Regions from separate parts of the Homo sapiens genome. Here region 1 is linked to region 2. Evidence: fine-mapped expression QTL. A gene starts in region 2. The other region holds a variant in brackets. All regions are shown on one strand. Distances are from middle to middle.

Evidence for each region. PIP is the estimated chance that this variant, and not a neighbour inherited with it, causes the effect. A credible set is the group of variants that fine-mapping cannot tell apart.
Region 1: its variant is the best candidate, but not a certain one, in a credible set for the expression of ARPC5L in lung (TOPMed, PIP 0.70).

What each region holds. Positions count from the first base shown.
Region 1 is chr9:124,906,878-124,916,987 of GRCh38, reverse strand. It overlaps GOLGA1 (golgin A1), which reads left to right. Exons shown (of 23, transcript NM_002077.4): 11 at 4,962-5,087; 12 at 8,516-8,611. Among named protein-coding and RNA genes, the nearest start is that of GOLGA1, 29 kb to the left of the region's middle. The variant G/A (reference allele first, on the strand shown) is at 5,390.
Region 2 is chr9:124,856,856-124,866,965 of GRCh38, reverse strand. It overlaps ARPC5L (actin related protein 2/3 complex subunit 5 like), which reads right to left and starts at 4,836. Exons shown (of 6, transcript NM_030978.3): 1 at 4,568-4,836; 2 at 2,859-2,978. WDR38 (WD repeat domain 38) reads right to left here. Exons shown (of 9, transcript NM_001045476.3): 7 at 10,085-10,110; 8 at 9,555-9,602; 9 at 9,088-9,464. The coding sequence ends at 9,336. It overlaps RPL35 (ribosomal protein L35), which reads left to right and starts at 5,009. Exons shown (of 4, transcript NM_007209.4): 1 at 5,009-5,056; 2 at 5,411-5,547; 3 at 6,702-6,783; 4 at 8,899-9,083. The coding sequence starts at 5,054. The coding sequence ends at 9,048. RefSeq lists enhancers at 4,590-4,809, 5,250-5,359, 5,400-5,449, 4,885-5,508, 6,497-6,996 and 1 more and silencers at 4,830-5,099, 8,139-8,421.

The sequences.
Region 1 (10,110 bases), 50 kb before region 2:
TATTTTTTCTCAATTATATAGTAATATAGTAGGGACATACCAAAATTTTAATTTTTGTCGATGGTGGGTTTTTTTTTTGTTTTCGTTTTTTTTTTTTTTTTTTTTTTTTTGTGTGTCAGGGTCTCACTCTGTCACCCAGGCTGGAGTGCAATGGTGCAATCATGGCTCACTGCAGCCTCAAATTCCTGGGTGTAAGTGATCCTCCTACTTCAGCCTCCCATATATCTGGGACTACAGGCTTACACTACCACACCTGGCTAATTAAAAAAAAATTTTTTTATAGTTAAGGTCTCACTATGTTGCCCAGGCTAGTTTTGAATTCCAGGACACAAGCAATCCTCCTGCCTCAGCCTCCCAAAGTCCTGGGATTACAGGCATGAGCCACTTTGCCTGGCTTGTGAAGATTTTTAATTACTGAATAGATTTCCTTAATGGTAATTCTAAGTTTATGTATTTCTTCCTAAGTTTTGTTAATTTATATTTTTCTACATAATTGTTCATTTGCTATAAGTTTAATGTTTTGGCATTGTATTTCTTATATTCTTTTTTTAGTTGCTCCCCTATCTTCATTCATAGTAGTATTTATGCATTTTCTATTTTTTTCTAGTTTATTCTTACCAGATGTCTGTCAGTTTGGAAACAAAATTTTACTTTAATTCTTTTCATTTTGTTTTTATTTAACCCACAGTGTTCAGAATTACACATTTTTTACTCTACTGGATAGCAGTTCCTCAACTGTAGCCATTATCTTTCAACTTCCCAATTTATGTTCTTCCTAACCTGTATTGTACTTAACACAATATTTTCATGGAATTCACCTTACTTTTTTTTTTTTACTTAAATAAGTATATTTATGTATTTATTTATTTATTTATTTATTTATTTAGAGATACAGTCTTGCTCTGTTGCCCAGGCTGGAGTGCAGTGGTGTGATCTTGGCTCACTGCAGCCTCCACCTCCCAGGTTCAAGTGATTCTCCTGCCTCAGCATCCCGAGTAGCTGGGACTATAGGCACATGCCACCATGCCCAGCTAATTTTTGTATTTTTAGAAGAGACAGGGTTTCACCATATTGGTCAGGCTGGTCTTGAACTCCTGACCTCTTGATCTGCCTGCCTCGGACTCCCAAAGTGCTAGGATTACACACGTGAGCCACCACGCCCTGCCATTTATTTTATTTTATCTATCTATTTATTTATTTTTGAGACAGAGTTTTGCTCTTGATGCCCAGGCTGGAGTGCAGTGGCGCGATGTTGGCTCACTGCAACCTCAACCTTTTTTGTTTTCAATTTTTTTACTTTTGTAGAGAAAAGATCTCCCTGTGTTACCTGGGCTGGTTTTGATCTCCTGGCTTTAAGCAAGCCTCCTGCCTCGGCCTCTCACAGTGCTGGGATTACAAACATAAGCCACTGGTCTCAGCACCATAAATACATTTATAATGAAGGAAAAAAAGGCATGTTGGGAGAACCAAAAGGATAGACAAGTGGTTAACGCTTAGAAAGGAAGTGGAAACGGTGCTAGATGAGGCTGGGAAGGTATGCAGGGCCAGTTGTATAGACTAAATAGTGAACATGAAATTTCATAAATAATCATTAGTGAATATTTAACAAGAATAGCTGAGCATTTACCCTGAGCTCAGTATTCAAGAGCTTTACAGATAGGGACTCATCGAGTCCTCACAACTACCCTTTGGTTAGACAGTGTTTTCCTATTTTACAGGTGATAGTAATGGGCATCTGACATCAAAGGCTAAATGATTTGTCAAGACCGTACAGCTGGAGTCAATGACAGAGCCAGGATTCAGACTCATGTCTGTCTGAATCAAGTGACCACCACCCAGAATTGATGCAGTCCATATTCTGGGACTATAACTGTGAGACCCAGACTCGGGAGGGAGTAGGTGAAGAGGGTGATCATTAGGAAAGGGGCAGGTTTGATGTCAGGGAGTATGGCTTGGTAACTGTTCCCGTAGTCCACATGAGGTGTAGAGGGCCTGAAGTAAATCAGCCAGCCTGGAGAAGGAGATCGCATATCAATATGTTGCACAAGAGGCATAAGTGGAACTTGGCCACTGATTCTTTTTCTGTCCCTAACTTTGCCTAACACAGTGACCTGTGTAAGATGTGTTGTTTTGGTTTTAACTGGAATGGGTCATCTATACCTCTTGAATTCAGATTGATGTGTAGGGGAACAAATGCAGACTTTGGATCCAGAAGACCTGGATTTAAATTCTTCATCTATCGCTAATAGGTATATGCCTTTGGGCTAGTCCCTAAGCTTCAGTTTCCTTGTAAATGGATGTGATAAAGAGCATTTGTAAGGACTAGACATAATAGGAAGTGCTTGCAGCGTTCCCTTGACCCTATATGTCTGTCTTTACGCTATTACCACACTGTCTTGGTCATTGTCACTTTAGAGTTGAAATCAGGTAATGTTCTCCAACTCTTACATCAACAGTTACTCTTTTTCTTTCCTTTTTTTTTTTCTTTGAGACGGAGTGTCGCTCCTCGCTCAGGCTGGAGTGCAGTGGCGCGATCTTGGCTCACTGCAAGCTCCGCCTCCCAGGTTCACGCCGTTCTCCCGCCTCAGCCTCCTGAGTAGCTGGGACTACAGGCGCCTGCCACCACGTCCGGCTAATTTTGTTTTTGTATTTTTAGTAGAGATGGGGTTTCACCGTGTTAGCCAGGATGGTCTCGATCTCCTGACCTCGTGATCTGCCCACCTCAGCTTCCCAAAGTGCTGGGATTACAGGCGTGAGCCACCACGCCCAGCCTACAGTTATTCTTTTTCAAGATTGCTGCAGCAATCTTGTTATAGCTGCTTCTGCTATATTACAGTTATAACTATTGCTAGTATTAACATTAGTAATAAGAGACCCATAAAGATGGGTCAACATGGCCAAAACTGGCTTTTTTTTTCCTATCACACTCACTCACTTTCCTGTGTTATCCACCTTGCATAATGTTACCATTTGCCCAGGTGTCTGAGCCACAGACCTGAGAGTTGTGTTCAGCTGTTCTTTCCTCCTCACCCAGCCTCTAGCCTTGCAGGACTTGTCTGTTACCTCTTTGTATGTGCTGCCCTTTATGCAGAATGATTGTTCCTCTTCCACCCTCTTTCACCTGGACTTGCCCATTCAGGAGGCCTGATCTGATTCTCCCAGTTAATCCCTCTTGCATCTCATATCTCATAGCACGGTGTGTGTCCCTCTGTTGAAGCACAGTTGTTTTGTAATTAGGTGTGTGTCTGTCTCCACCACCAGCCTCCATGCTGGAATTAATGTTGATTGTATCCTCAGAAAACAACAGATAGAGTTCAGGCTTGATGAAAGTTTATTGAATTGTGGGGTCATAAATCTAGTCTTCAGACTTCCCCTCCACTATCTCTGTTGTCCACCTGTGAGAATTCAGAATGGCAAATACTTCTTCCCAAAACCATACACCCTGGTTGCTGCATCTTATCCTGAGGAGAGATCGGCCAAGTTACAACTGAACATGAAAGTTTATGGCTTGAAATGGAGCAACGGAAGTGTAAGATAAGGGAATTTGAGGGAACAGAGTACATGTAAAGAGGTACAAGTCTTCACAGTGAGATTTTGTTGCCCTACAACCTTTTCTGGGGAAGAATGGGCATCCTCAGTGGGGATGTAAGAACTCATGTATTCAAAGCTTCCTGGATCCTCTGCTTTGACATTGAGCAGTGATATGGTTAGGCTCCGTGTCTCATCTCAAATTGTAATGCCCACATGTCAAGGGAGGGACCTGGTGGGAGGTGATCGGATCATGGAGGCAGATTTCTCCTTTGCTGTTCTTGTGATAGTGAGTGAGTTCTCATGAGAGCTGATGGTTTTACAGTATGGCACTTCCCCCCTCGCTCGCTTGCTCTATCCTGCCACCGTGTAAGATGTACCTTGCTTCCCCTTCTCCTTCTGCCATGCTTGTAAGTTTCCTGAGGCCTCCCAGCCATGTGGAACTGTGAGTCAATTAAATCTCTTTCCTTTATAAATTACTCAGTCTCAGGTATTCTTTATAGCAGTGTGAGAATGGACTAATACAAGCAGCAGTTGAAGATTAGTAGCAGTAAAAGGAACCAAGTTAGTCCCAACCTGTTGCTACCACCACTACCATCATAGCTAAAGAGATAGACTGGCCAGGCACAGTGGCTTACGCCTGTAATCCTAGCACTTTGGGAGGCCGAGGCTAGTGGATCATGAGGACAGGAGATTGAGACCATCCTGGCCAATATGGTGAAACCCCGTCTCTACTAAAAATACAAAAAATTAGCCGGGTGTGGTGGTGGGCGCCTGTAGTCCCAGCTACTCGGGAGGCTGAGGCAGGAGAATGGCGTAAACCCAGGAGGTGGATGTTGCAGTGAGCCGAGATCGCGCCACTGTACTCCAGCCAAGGCAACAGAGCGACACTCCGTCTCAAAAAACCAAAAATAATAGATTGAAATAAAACGGGCAGCTGTTGGTCTAAAGCCAAGGTATGAGAAGCATGGCAGCTCTGCTGTGGTCCCTGTCCTGTGAGCCAGGTGAATCTCATCATTTCAGAAGTTCTCTCTTTAGCCTTAAAGCCACTACATCAGCACTGTTACTGCTTTATCCAGCCCCTCAGCTTTCAGGAGCATTGTTCCATAGGTCATTGCAGGCTGAGTGCTTCTTGGTGGGATTAGTTCTGCTGCCTCTACCACGTAGGTAATGCCTTTGTTCCAGACTGTCAGTTGTTTAATTGGGAAGAGTGTTTGCTTCTTGCTGCACTAGGTCTGAGCTGGATCCCTGAGTTTTGCCAGGTTCTAATCTTGCATTTTCTGTATCCCATTTTCAGGAAGATCTCTTAGCTGTTTGTTCTTCTAGGATACAGTTGAGGACAGAGTTGCAGGAAAATGTGATGGCCCAAAAGAAAGCAGGAAGGAAGGAAGAGAGGGCTTCTAGTATAGAGTGATCTCTGCTTTCACCTGCAGGTCACTGCTGAAACTCAAGAGAAAGAAGACGTTATCACACATTTGCAAGAGAAGGTTGCATCCTTGGAGAAGAGACTAGAACAGAACTTATCAGGAGAAGAACACTTGCAAGAACTCCTGAAAGAGGTAACTTCTGTTCTCTTTGGGCTGGCTGGTGTTGGAAAGGCAGGGTTGATTCTGGTGACTTCACAATTCCTAGAGTTTCAGAGCTGTAGGGCCAGCAAACAGCATGGTAACAAAAGAAGTGTCTCCAACTTTGGCTTGTCCTGCTTACATCAGAAAGAGCCTTATGTCCCCTGTGGGTGACATGCTTTTCTCAGGGAAAGGGAGAGCTGTATTCAGAGATACATACAAACGGATAGCATCTCATCACCAATAAACCACACCTAGTGATTTCCGCCACTTGGGCTGCCTTGTCTTTCTGCACT[G/A]CCCTCTTCCCCACCATTTTGTACTCTGCAGTGGCCAAGGTAAATAGCTACATCTGCCCCTTGGCAAAAGCAAGAATTACCTTGGGCAGCATTCTCTCCTTCCCAAGGGAGGCTGTTGTGCAGACTGGCCTCTTCCCCAGTGGTGCAAGGGAACTTTCTCATCAGGCTGAGCTCATTGTCTGCACACATTCTGCTCTTCCCTCTCTTTCTGTTCCAGTGATTGGCCACACTGTGACAAAGGTGACAAAGCCCAGGTCATGAGGCTCCTAGATTAGACCCTCCCTTTCTTTCTTCAGTCAGTTTCAACTAAATACCTCCATCTCCAGTGCCACTGGTTGTACTTCAGGGTTTCCAGCAAATCTAGCCTAGTCTATGTTAGAAGTCTCCAGATTGGCCTACCCAGCATCAGTCTCTCTTCCTTCACTCTCTGACACAGTCTCCCACGCTCACTGCCAAACTGATCCTCCTAATCAGCACTGGTGACCATATCACTCTCTTAAACATCTTCTACAATTCCCTTCAACAGTCTACAGGAAGTGTAATGTGGGTTCTAGGGAATAAATTGATTTCTAGAATCAGAATGTCCATGCTTGCATTTTGCCTCTTCTGCTTACCAGCTTTGACTTGGAGCAGCAGTTCCCAACCGTTTTGGCACCAGGGACTGGTTTCGTGGAAGACAGTTTTTCCACAGATGGGGTCAGGTTGGGTCGGGTGAGGGGGTGGTTTCAGAATAAAACTGTTCCACCTCAGATCATCATCGTCCCTAGATTCTCATAAGGAGTGTGCAACCTGGATCCCTCACTTGCACAGTTCACAATAGGGTTCATGCTCCTATGAAAATCTAACACCACCACTGATGTGACTGGAGGCAGATCTTAGGTGGTAGTGCTTACTCACCACTCACCTCCTGCTGTGCGGCCTGGTTCCTAACAGACTGCAAGGTCTGTGGCCCAAGGGTTGGGGACCCCTGACTTAGAGCAAGTAATTTAATCTCTTTGTGTTTGCTTCCTCCCCAATAAAATTGGTTTTATTATACTATTAAACTCAGAATTGTTGTTAGGGTTAAATAAGTTACAATATGTGAAGTGCTTAGAATGATAACCGGAACAGAGTAGGGTCTCAATGTATGTCAGCTGTAAACATGATCAATATTATTATTGTGCCATCATCATTATTATAATGTTTAATGTGCATAGAAATTACTTGGGAAGTTTGTTTAAAGTATATATCTCTAGGCCAGGCGTGGTGGCTCACGCCTGTAATCCCAGCACTTTGGGTAGCCGAGGCGGGCAGATCACCTGAGGTCAGGAGTTCAAGACCAGCCTGGCCAACATGGCAAAACCCCGCCTCTATTAAAAATACAAAAATTAGGCCAGGCGCGGTGGCTCACACCTATAATCCCAGCACTTTGGGAGGCCGAGGCGGGCGGATCACAAGATCAGGAGATCGAGACCATCCTGGCCAACATGGTGAAAGCCCGTCTCTACTAAAAATACAAAAATTAGCTGGGCGTGGTGGCACATGCCTGTAGTCCCAAGCTACTCCGGAGGCTGAGGGAGGAGAATTGCTTGAACCTGGGAGGTTGCAGTGAGCTGAGATCATGCCACTGCACTCCTGCCTGGTGACAGAGCGAGACTCTGTCTCAAAAAAATAAATAAATAAATAAATTAGCTGGGCATGGTGGCGGGTGCCTGTAATTCCAGCTACTCAGGAGGCTGAAGCAAGAGAATCACTTGAACCCAGGAGGCGGAGGTTGCAGTGAGCCAAGATCGCACCACTACTTTCCAGCCTGAGCGACAAGAGTGAAATTCCATCTCAAAAATAATAAATAAGTAAATAAAGTATATATCTCTGGCCCTACCCTCAGAAATTCTGATTTCCTTAGGCTTGGAGCAAGGCCTCAAATCTGTGCAACTAGCTGAGATTAACAACTATCTCAGTAACAGCTATCTCAGCTAAGTCTACATTTCTTTTTTTTTTTTTTTTTTTTGAGACGGAGTCTCACTCTGTTGCCCAGGCTAGAGTGCAGTGGCGTGATCTCGGCTCACTGCAACCTCTGCTTCCCGGGGTTCAAGTGATTTTCCTGCCTCAGCATCCCGAGTAGCTGGGACTACAGGTGCACACCACCACATCCAGCTAATTTTTTTGTATTTTTAGTAGAGACAGGGCTTCACCATGTTGGTCAGGCTGGTCTCGAACTTCTGACCTCGTGATCTGTCCACGTCGGCTTCCCAAAGTGCTGGGATTACAGGCGTGAACCACCGCTCCCAGCCCCATTTTTTTTTTTAAGACAGAGTCTCACTCTGTCACCCAGGCTGGAGTTCAGTGGTACAATCTCTGCTCACTGCAACTCCGCTTCCTGGGTTCAAGTAATTCTCCTGCCTCAACCTCCCAAGTAGCTGGGATTACAGGTACCCACCACCACATCCAGCTAATTTTTAAAATATTTTTAGTAGAGATGGGATTTCACCACGTTAGCCAGGCTGGTCTCGAACTCCTGACCTAAAGTGATCTGCCTGCCTCAGCCTCCCAAAGTTCTGGGATTACAGGTGTGAGCCACCACACCCGGCCTAGAATTTCTACTTTGAAAAATGTTGCTTACAGAATCAAGTTCTAACTCCTTTTTGCAACATTCAAAAGCTTCTCATGAGCTGGCCCTTTTGCCTATCTTTCTAGTCTTGTTTTTTGACCTAAACCCATCATCATTTTGGCTTCTGAGGAGTAGTAGTTCCCTCAACGTAGCAGGCTGTTCACATAGCCGTTGGTCATCCCCCTGCCTGGGAGGCTCCCTGAACCCTAACGACTTTGTGAGTTCTAAAGCTGCCTACCTGCCCTGTGGCAGGGAGTATCTCCCACCCTGTGCTTCTTCCTCTTTGTGGACACTTACTGTACTCTATTGTGTAATTTTTTATTAGTCTTTTGTTCCAGCCTCAAGGTCAAGGGACTATTTCAAATTTATCTGTGTGTACTTTATGATATGTGAATTATTTCTCAATTAGCTGAATTATTAAAAATGTATTCATGTCTCTTGTGCCTAGCACAAGTCACAATATGTTGTAGATAATCTGTAAATATTTATTCAACTGAGGAATGATAGTCTTCTTTTACTCTTCTTTCAACTTACAGAAAACACTTGCTGAGCAGAATTTGGAGGATACCAGACAACAGCTCTTGGCAGCCAGAAGCAGCCAGGCTAAGGCCATTAACACCCTGGAGACTCGGGTACTGACCTTACTCCTGGTGTTTCCTAAGTTTGGGTGGTAACCTGGCTGAATGGCAACATGGTGTGACTGAGAATCTTCTTGGTCAGAGTTTTTTCACTAGAAGGGATTATTTTTGGATCTTACCTATACAGGGATGAGTTAGTCATTTTCTTCATCCTTGTCACATTACTATGATTGAGTTATATGTTTATTTATACCCTTTTATCCCCATTGGCCTCCCTCCCATAGGATACCATTCCGTTGTGGTTCATATAGATGCTCTTTTTGTTGGGTTGTTTTAAAATATGTAGCACTGGGTTTTTAATTTCTGTAAATGATGCAGCTATGGGTATGTTTTCTCTATTACTTTTAGCTGCCTCAACTTCTGTCTGTACCCACTTCATTGTACTTTGTAGTTATCTATGTGGTAGACATCCAGATTGCTTCCTTCTTCCTGCCACCTCAGATCATGCATAAAACCTAAAGAGACTAAGTACTATAGGAGAAGATTGTTCCCAGCAAGCCTGCACCTGGCTCTCCTCCTCCAGCATGCATGAGCGTTCCTATATATGCCTTTCTGACTTTTCCAGCATTGGCATTTCCAAGCCTTTACAATTTTTGCCAGTTTACTGAGTGTGGAGTGGTATTTCATTGCTTTAATTTGCATTGCTATGGTGATTAATGAGTTTGGCCTTGTCTTCATGTGCCTGTTAATTCCTGGGGGTTTCTGCTTTTGGAATTGCCCATTCATATCCTTTCCTTATTTTCTTTGGGGGTTTCAGTCTTTTCTTATTTGGTTTGTAGGATTTCATTGTATATTCTTGTTCCTAATGCTTTATCAGTTTCAGTCCTGAGTCATTCTGTTAACTTTGTCCATGTATCCTTTGTTGAATAGACTTTCTTAAGTTCAGTGTTACCAGATTCATCACATTTTTGCTGTGGAGTTTGAAGTTCCATTTAGAAAATCTATTCCTGTTCCTAAGTCACAGAGATCTACTGTTTTTTCCCTATTAACTTTATAATTTTTCCTTCACATAATAAATCTCTAATTCACTTACAAACTGTCTTTCTGTATGGTCTTAGGTAGGGATCTAAATATGGAGAAATTCTGCATATTTCTCAAAATCATTTACTAAACAGTCTGTCCTTTCTGAATTGATTCCTCTTGCTAACTTTATCACGTATTGTTTCTGTCTGCACATGGGTTTGTCTCTGCATTCTCTGTCCATTGGTCTGATTGTCTGCTCTTGTGTAAACACTACAATGTTTTTATTACTATAGTGATATCTGTACTATATCTCAACACCCAATAAGACAAATTCTCTTTTTTTTTCAAAGGTTGACTTTAACTATTTATGGGCCTTTAAAATTTTTAAGTTTTTGAGTTACTAAAAAATTCAACTTGAATTTTTATTGGGATTGCATTAAATGTATAGGCTAATTGGGAAAAATTGTCCATTTTATAATATTAATTATTCCTTCTAACAATGTAAATATATTCCATTTATTCAGATTATT
Region 2 (10,110 bases):
GTCTTAATTCAAATGGGACAGCCCTGGAAATTCTGAGCAGAACAGTAATAGATCAGAAGTCTGAATTGTTTGAAAAGGGCCTTCTAAGCAGCTGTATTGAGAACACATCTGGGATCGAGAACCAAAGTAGAGAGGTGATTTAGATGGTGACAGCAACCATCCAGGGGACAGACAGTGGTAGCCCAACCAGGCAGGGGCCAATGAGGATGGTGGGAACAAGCTGGGTAAATTTTTTTTTAATTTTTTTGAGACGGAGTTTTGCTCTTATTGCCCAGGCTGGACTGCAATGGGGCTATCTCAGTTCACCGCAACCTCTGCCTCCCGGGTTCAAGCAATTCTGCCTCAGCCTCCCGAGTAGCTGGGATTACAGGCATGCGCCACCATGCCTGGCTAATTTTGTATTTTTAGTAGAAACGGGGTTTCTCCATGTTGGCTGGCCTAGTGTTGAACTCCTGACCTCAGGTGATCTGCCCACCTCGGCCTCCCAAAGTGCTGGGATTACAGGCATGAGCCACCGTGCCCCACCAATTTCTTATTTTGTTTTATTTTATTCATTTTTTTTGAGATGGAGCCTCACTCTGTTGCCCAGGCTGGAGTGCAGTGGCACAGTCTCAGCTCACTGCACCCTCCACCTCCAGGGTTCAGGTGATTCTCCTGCCTCAGCCTCTGGAGTAGCTGGGATTACCGGCACCTGCCACCACACCTGGCTAATTTTTGTATTTTTAGTAGAGACAGGGTTTCACCATGTGGGCCAGGCTGGTTTCAAACTCCTGACCTCAGGTGATCCACCTGCGTCGGCTTCCTAAAGTGCTGGGATTACAGACGTGAGCCACTGCGCCTGACCTGTTTTTTTGTTTTTTTAAGAGGGAGTCTCACTGTGTCGCCTAGGCTAGAGTGCAGTGGCCCAACCTCAGCTCACTGCAACCTCCGCCTCCAGGGTTCAAGTGATTCTCCTGCCTCAGCCTCCCAAGTAGCTGGGAGTACAGGTGCACACCACCACGCCTGGCTAATTTTTATATTTTTAGTAGAGACAGGTTTTCACCATGTTGGTCAGGCTGGTCTCGAACTCGTGACCTCATGATCTGCCCGCCTTGGCCTCCCAAAGTGCTGGGATTACAGGTGTGAGCCACCACGCCCAGTCCCAATTTTGTTTTTTTTGTTTTTTGTTTTTTTGAGATGGAGTTTTGCTCTTTCGCCCAGGCTTGAGTGAAGTGGCGCAATCTTGGCTCACTGCAACCTCTGCCCCCTGGGTTGAAGCAATTCTCCTGCCTCAGCCTCCCGAATAGCTGTGATTATAGGCACCCGCCACCATGCCCGGCTAATTTTTTTTGTATTTTTAGTAGAGACACGGTTTCACCATGTTGGCCAGGCTGGTCTCGAACTCCTGACCTCAGGTGATCCACCTGCCTTGGCCTCCCAAAGTGCTAGGATTACAGACGTGAGCCACCTCACCCGGCCTTAAGTTGGGTAAATTTTGAAGGTAGAGTACCTGGAATTTACTGGTTGACTAGATGTGGCGTGTAAGAGAGAGTCACAAATGACTTCAGGTTCGAAAAAGATGTGCAGAGTCATTAACTCTAAGCATTTAAAAATATAACAGCAAAGGCACTGTGCACCATTAGACTTTCCTTTTTTTTTTTTTTTTTTTTTAGACAGAGTTTCCCTCTTGTCACCCAGGCTGGAGTGCAATGGCCCGATCTCGGCTCACTGCAACCTCTGCCTCTGGGTTCAAGCGATTCTCTTGCTTCAGCCTCCAGAGTAGCTGGGATTACAGGCGTGCACCACGTGAGCCACCACGCCCGGCCTAGACTTTCATTTAAGACTAAGCTATGCCGGCCAGGTACAGTGGTTCACACCTGTAATCCCAACACTTTGGGAGGCCGAGACAGGTGGATCACCTGAGGTCAGGAGTTTGAGACCAGCCTGGCCAACGTGGTGAAATGCCGTCTCTACTAAAAATATAAAAATTAGCCAGGCATCATGGCGGCACCTGTAATCCCAGCTACTTGGATTACAGTAGCTGTAGGCAGGCTGGGAGGCTGAGGCAGAAGAATCCTTTGGACCCAGAAGGCAGAGGTTGCAGTGAGCCGAGATTGTGCCATTGCACTCCAGCCTGGGCAACAAGAATGAAACTCAGTCTCAAAAAAAAAAAAAGGTCCAGGCGCACTGCGCCGTGGCTCATGCCTGTAATCGCAGCACTTTGGGAGGCTGAGGCAGGCGGATCTCTTGAGGTCAGGAGTTTGAGACCACCCTGGCGAAACCCCGTCCCTACAAAAAATACAAAGATGGGCCAGGCGCGGCAGCTCACACCTGTAATCCCAGCACTTTGGGAGGCCAAGGCAGGCGGATCACAAGGTTAAGAGTTCAATACCAGCCTGGCCAACATGGTGGCCAGGTGAAATATGGTGAAACCCCGTCTCTACTAAAAAAACAAAAATTAGCTTGGCTTGGTGGTGCATGCCTGTATTCCCAGTTCCTCGGGAGGCTGAGGCAGGAGAATCGCTTGAACCTGGGAGGCAGAGGTTGCAGTGAGAGCCGAGATTGTGCCCCTGCACTCCAGCTTGGGCAATAGAGCAAGACTCCATTTTGGAAAAAAACAAAAATACAAAGATTAGCCGGGCATGGTGGCACGCACCTATGTAATCCCAGCTATTCAGGAGGCTGAGGCACAAGGATCGCTTGAACCTGGGAGGTGGAGGTTACAGTGAGCTGAAATTGTGCCACTGCACTCCAGCCTGGGTGACACAGCAAGACTCCATTTCAAAAAAAAAAAAAAAAAGTCTAAGCCATGCCGGGATTGCCCTCTCTCTACTCTCTTTTTTCCCCATATCCCTCCACCTCCTGAAAGCCTTCCTCACCTTGGTGTGGGTCAAGGTTCATTAATTCATCCAACAAGCATCCATGTACTGGGCCTGGAGACTAGAACAATTAATTCAGTTGTCCGCCAAGGTTCTGTCCCCAGAGAACTTCTAGGTTGGCTGTGGAAATAGACACATAAATGCATCATTTTATTTCAGCCTGTTTGGGGCTAAGGAAAGGATTGCACAGAGGTTGCTACTCATAGGAGATGGGAGAAGTCTCCTTGTGGGTGGTTACAGCTGGTAGTAACAAGAGGACAATCTGGCTTCAACCATAACTCTAAGAGGTGGCATGTCTTTATTAAGGGCAAGGGAGTGGCACTGGAGTGCTGATTAATGCCTACTGGTTGGCAGACATTAATCAGAAAGCCTAAACATGCCCTGCCTTGTGAATTCCCGTTTCACTTTCCGGGCTCTACTGAAGTGTTCCTTCCTCTGGGAACATGAACACCAATGATATTTTGAGCCATTGTTATGCGTCAGATTTCGGGTTAACAGCTTTACAGATATCTCCTCTAATTCTCATAAATGCCTCATTTCACATGTGAGCAAACTGAGACTCAAGAAAGGGGAAGAGATTTCCCAAGAGTCTCAACTACTACCTTGGCAGCAGAGCAAGAATTTGAAACCTGGTCAGGTTCACTTTAAAAAAGGCTGTACTAGCCGGGCGCAGTGGCTCACACCTGTAATCCCAGTATTTTGGGAGGCTGAGGCGGGTGGATCACTTGAGGTCAGGGGTTTGAGACCAGCCTGGCTAAACCTTGTCTCTACTAAAAATACAAAAATTTAGCTGGGTGTAGTGGCACACACCTGTAGTCCCAGTTACTGGGGAGGCCAAGGCAGGAGAATCTCTTGAACCCGGGAGGTGGAGGTTGCAGTGAGCCGAGATCGCGCCACTGCACTCCAGCCTAGGCGACAGAGCCAGACTCCATCTCAAAAAATATATAAAAAATAAAATAAAAATAAAAAAGGCTGTATGGCCAGGCGAGGTGGCTAACCCCTGTAATCCTAGGCACTCTGGGAGGCCGAGGAGGGCGGATTGCTTGAGCCCAGGAGACCACCCTGGGCAACAGCTCTACAAAAAATAAACAAATTAGCCAGGCCTGGTGGCTTGTGCCTGTAGTTTCAGCTACTCGGGAGACTGAGGTGGGAGGGCTGCTTGAACCCGGGAAGCGGAGGTTTTGGTGGGCGGAGAGCGCGCCATGCCTTCCAGCCAGGGTGACAGAGCGAGACCCTGTCTGAAAAAAAAAATTAAAAAATAAAAAAAATAAATAAAGGCTGGGGCCAGGCGTGGTGGCTCACGCCTGTAATCCCAGCACTTTGGGAGGCCGAGGCGAGGGGATCACCTGAGCTGAGGAGTTCAAGATCAGCCTGGGCAACATGGCGAAACCCCGTCTCTACTAAAAATACAAAAAATTAGCCAGGCGTGGTGGTGCATGCCTGTAATCCCAGCTACTCAGCTACTCGGGAGGCTGGGGCAGGAGAATCGCTGAACCCGGGAGGCGGAGGTTGCAGTAAGCCGAGATCGCGACACTGCACTCCAGCCTGGCACCCTGGGCGACAGAATGAAGCTCTGTCTCAAAAAAAAAAAAAAAAAAAAAGGTGTAAATGCTCTTTGCAGTTCCATATACTGCCTCCCCAGAACCTTTATGGAGTTGGATTATAACTGCCTGAGCCCGCCCCTCCCGTCCATCTCGCGCTTTAAATTCCTCCGCGACGTGAGCCTCGGTTAATCGTCTTTGAAAACTCTGGCCCCTCCTCCCGTCAGCACCCCCAGACTACTGGCGCCCAGCTCAGAGTTGCCCAGATTGGGAGATCTGCAAGGTTTCCCGAAGGAATGAATGAACGAATGACTGAATGGACGAATTTGAGTCCTCCGTGTGCCATCTCTGGTAGCTGCCGCCCACGTTGGGCCTCGGTTTCCCCAACTGCGCGCCTACACCGTGACGCCGACCTCGCTATCAGGGGTGCCGTGAATGAGGCGAGCACTACAAGGCGGGGCTCCGGCCCTACCAGGCGGGGCGGGCAGTACCACGGCGTTCCTCGGGGGCGGGGGAGATGAGGCGGAGCCGGGGCTCCCCCGCTGCGGCGCCATTGGCCGCGCCCGCCGCCACCCGGCAGTAGTTGCGGAGGTCAGCCCCGCCTACTTCCTCTTTCCCTCGGAGCGGGCGGCGGCGTTGGCGGCTTGTGCAGCAATGGTGAGAGCTGCGGAATCGGGCGCCATCCGAGCGCTGTGAGGCGCGGGGGTTGGGGAAGGCGGTGCGGGCTGAGCCCGCGGATTCTATCTGCCACCTAGGCCTGTGGGGCGCCGCGCAGAATGGTCTGGCGCCACCACAACCCGCCTCTTCGCTTGGCGCCGGGAGAGGCGCGCGGCCCGGGCCTGGGTTACTCTGCCCAAGGCACGGCCGGCGAGGGAGACTGTCCTGAGCCCTGGTTGGGGCTCCGGCGCACTCGTAGTCGATGGCGAGTCGCGCGCCTTTGGGGGCTGGCCACGCAGGTGAAGGGGATATGGCCCCGCGGCCTGGCTGAGGCACACTCTCTCTTGCGCGCAGGCCAAGATCAAGGCTCGAGATCTTCGCGGGAAGAAGAAGGAGGAGCTGCTGAAACAGCTGGACGACCTGAAGGTGGAGCTGTCCCAGCTGCGCGTCGCCAAAGTGACAGGCGGTGCGGCCTCCAAGCTCTCTAAGATGTAAGTGAGGCGGCCGGATCACAGCCCTCGTGGGTGGGGAGCACGTGTGCATCGGGATCGTCGGAGGATTTCAAAGTTGGCTTAAGGAGCTGGCCGCTTAGATGCCCACTCCGTGCATCCTGGCGCGCATGGGAGACCCGTTGTGTGCTTAGCCTCTTACCTGCCTTGACCTTGCGGTCCTTGTGCCTGGAATGCATCCCCGGAGACCCATCTTAATGCTGCCTTCAAAGCCTACCCGGACCCCTTCCTTCCGCTTCCCACCAACACTTGAGTTTTTAACCCCCTTGGCAGGTGGGTGGCTTGCACCCTGGAGTGGCAGCGTAAGTTATTTTACATGGCTAAGAGTGCGGGAGACTTGTGAAAGGAACATGGGTTTGGAGTTCATCAACCTGGGTACAAAGTCCACTTCTCAAAAAAAAATTAGATGGGTGTGGTGGTACAGGCCTGTAGTCCCAGCTACTCTGGAGGCTGAGGCAGGAGGATCACTTGAGCCCAGGAGTTGGGAGGCTATGATGGGGCCACTGCTCTTCAGTCTGGTTGACAGGTGAGACCCTGTCTCCAAAAAAAAAAAATGGTGGTTGCCCTCTTTGCCCCCAAACAACCTTAGTAGAGGCAGGGGTGGGAGGATTGGACAAGCACAGTTGCACACTGAATCCTCAAAAACCATGTTGACCAGCTGTCTACTAGGTGACTCCCTCATCCTGACATGACTACAAATAACTTCTCCCTGGCTCGTTGTTTGCTTCAGTCTCCTGGCTTGTAGTGACTCCACTTTGCAAATGTCTTGTTTCTCTCTCCTGCAGTTCCCTAAGCTAGCCTGATTGCCTGGTTTGTGGCATGATTCCTTCCCATCAGCTCATTGAAATTGGCATTGGTTGGGTCTTAGCCCTCAGGATAAATTCGTGTTCTGGGATTGAAGGTCTTTTTCTGATCTGCCTCATTTATCCAGCCTGCACTTCCTCATAAAGCCTCTGCTGTCTCTCCCATGCCCCTCTCTTCCCTCCTCAGACCTCACTCCCAGAACGCCTTCCTCCTGAGTGAATATGGATGGGTTGATGGGGGAGGCTGCAGCTATTGCTGCCCTATGTGTGAGTCCTGAGTCTTGGGTAGTGCTATGTGTCTTCCCTATCTTCACTGACATCTCTGTTTTGTAGCCGAGTCGTCCGGAAATCCATTGCCCGTGTTCTCACAGTTATTAACCAGACTCAGAAAGAAAACCTCAGGAAATTCTACAAGGTGAGTCTGCCTGGACATAGGGAGGGTTGGCTGCAGGAAGCCAAGTGCTAGCCGTCCCTGGCCGGGGACATGGTAAAGAGGTTTTTCTTGGTGCGTGGGCTGAGAGTGGTTAGCCTTCCCAATTTGTTGCTGGGCTCACTCTTCTACCAGTGTCTTGCACTGGCACGTGGCTCTGCAGACCACTTCCTCAGGCTGCAGATGTCAAGAATTCATTGGGGCTTGGGGTGTCCTGGCTGGAGACTCAGTTTTTGAAACCAGCCTTCCCAGTTGAGTGGCTTGGGCAGTGATAGGACTGGCTGTTGAAGGTTTTCACTGCCTCTTACTGGCACTGGGTGTCAGTCCCTGCCAGGCACCTGCCATGCTCATTTTTCAGATGAGGGCCCTGAGGCCTAGACACCCACAGTCAATGGCATGATGGGCCCTGGTTCCAAACCTTACCTTGGGGAGGGTCGGCTTTAGTGTTCTGGGAGGTGTGCACAGGTGTCTGGCCCCCTCTTAGTCTTGAATTTTGATAACCATTTTCTGGTCTTGTCCTTAACATTCATCTTATTGGGGTTCAAGCAGAGAAAACTAGGGGGAGACGGTGTGTGCACATGCATCCAATGTATTCTGAAGAATGGGCATAGGTGATTGTGGGGGCTGGCTGGGACTCAGGGCTCAGGTTGAAGCTGCTGTTCCCAGTGGGTACTTGGAGGGAGCCTCAGCCCTGTGCTTAAGACTTACAGCTGATTGGATCGGGCCTTCTGGGATTACCCAGGATAATCTCCCCTAAAGTTACCTGATGAGGGTCTTTAATTTCATCTGCAAAATGGTTCCACATCACTACCCAAATTGTGTTTGAATAACTTGAAGATTTGACACAAGGGAAAAGCAGCCATGGCTGATGAAGTGCCACAGGCCTATAACCCCAGCTACTGGGAGGCCGAGGCAGGAGGATGGCTTGAGCCCAGGAGTTAAAGTGTAGCCTGGGCAACATAGTGAGGCCTCATCTCAAAAAAATGAGAAGGGCCATAGTGTGGCTATGTTAGCTGTTCAGGGGACACTAGCACGTGTGTGGCAAAAGTAAACCTTTAATGTCAGCAGCTACGTGTGTGGCTAGTGGCTGCTCTGTTGGACAGCAGAACTCTAGGGGGTTAGCCAATGTGAAAAGGACGAATGCCCAGCCGATGCCAGCAGGAGTGAGGGATGTGGGAGGACAAAGACTTTCCTGCTTCCAAGTACCCTCCAGGGCTGGCCCTCATTGTCCAGGATCTTTCTGCAGTCCTCTGCCCACCTGCAGGGGCCTGGGGCCCTGTGACCTCAGAATCCCCCATACCATGGGCCACTTGTTACCTGTTCAGTCTTCCCCCACTAGGCTGGGACCCCTGAGCAGGGACTGGGTCAGATCCTTTGCCAAGCCAGCTCCCAGCACAGGGCCCAGTCCTGAAGGGGGCCCAGGGGACCTTTGCAGAACACAGGAGAGACCAGTGAGAGCTGCCATGGTCTAGAACCCCCTGCTGGAGAACAAGTGGGGCAGGAGTGGGAGCCAAGGATGGAAAGACAGATGATGGCTCTGTGACAGCTGTGGGCAGGGGCCCCAAAGCCGGAAGCAGGTGGGGCAAGTGGCCTTGGCCAGCCAGGCCTCTGAGGCTGGACGTTCATACAGGCAGCAGCTGGTGGGCCCTGCATACAGATGGACAGAGTACTGCCTCAGCCCCCAGCATGCTCTTGCTAACCAGAGCCGAGGTAATGGTAACTACCCCCGGGGCTTGGTGGGTGCTGCGTGCCCTGTACTAGGTTGTCATGTGACTGTCCTCGTGACTGGGAATCGGGCAGTGGAAGGAGCACTGAGTTGGGAGTCACTTGACTGAGATGCAAGCCCCGGCTCTTCCACAGCTTTGCCAAGACTTGGACACTCAGCCCAGTAGGTCAGCAGACTTACATGAAATGAGGATGGTCCCACCAGCCTTAGATTTGGGGGGATTAATTGAGTTAGTGACATGTGTGGCCTGCTGGCAGTCCCATGGTGGCAGCCTCCTCCTGAGTGGCTCTGGATGGCCCTCCCCAGCCCCCTTAGCTGCTGCAGTAGCTCCTCAGCCCTGGGTCCTTGGATTCACCCTGCCGTCTGTCTCCCAGGGCAAGAAGTACAAGCCCCTGGACCTGCGGCCTAAGAAGACACGTGCCATGCGCCGCCGGCTCAACAAGCACGAGGAGAACCTGAAGACCAAGAAGCAGCAGCGGAAGGAGCGGCTGTACCCGCTGCGGAAGTACGCGGTCAAGGCCTGAGGGGCGCATTGTCAATAAAGCACAGCTGGCTGAGACTGCTTTGTTTCCTGGCACTTCCACTGATTGGGTGGAGGTGGGTGGGTCTGGTTTTGGGGACCAGGTGTCTGATGGGTTCCAGCAAGCGTCCTGCCCACCACAGTTGTCTGCTCTGGTGGGGCCTGGAGAGTCCTGGCCATGGGGATCTGCTGGATGCCAGCACAGTCACTTTGCGTCTGTGGGGAGAAGCGGCATGCCTGTGCGCCACTGAGGGGAGCGGGTGAGGTCGGCACCATCTAAGGTGGTTGGTGTTAGGTTTGAGGGTCCCTGGGTGATTTGGACGTGCGGGATATTTGACGTCTAGTCTGATCGGCAGCTCCAGACACTAAGATTTTCCCATCTGGGGTGAAGGCACAGGTGTGGGCCACATCCAGGACTCCCTGCTAAGAGTAGAAGGTGGGGCTCGAGGCAAGTCCTGCCTTGGGAGAAGCTGTCCACAGCTTCCTCAGTGCCACAGCGCCGTGCCTTACCTTCAGGGTCTCAAGGCACTTTCCTGTGTTGCAGTCCCAGACTTTGACCTGGAAAAGGAGGGGGGCATGTCAGGAAGCCTCACCAGGCCACTGTGGCATCTGAAGCCACCTCCAGGAAAGTCCCAGACAAAATATGAGATGAGTCTTCGCCTGAACTCCTGACCTCAGGTGATTCACCTACCTCCACCTCCCAAAGTGCTGGGATTACAGGTGTGAGCCACCGCCCCCGGCCCAAAAAACATCTGAACCTCTTGGTGTAGGTTTTGTTTGGAGGCTGTATTTGAAATTTCAGAGCAGGAGTTCCCTTTTGCCTGATGCCATTTGGGTCATGGAAATGTCAATGCAACTACCAATGGGCCAGCCCTAACCTTGGTGCTGGCCATTAGGAAGAGAGGCTGGCACCCAGGTCCTGCCCTTGCCCCCTCCTAGCTAGGGCAAGTGGGGATGTGGGCATTTCTGGAGTGAGTGCTGAGGGCTCCTGGTGGGGTGAGGATGGGTAGGTAGGAGCAGGATGGGCCCGGGGTGGTTACCATGCGGGAATAGCCGGCGCTGGCCA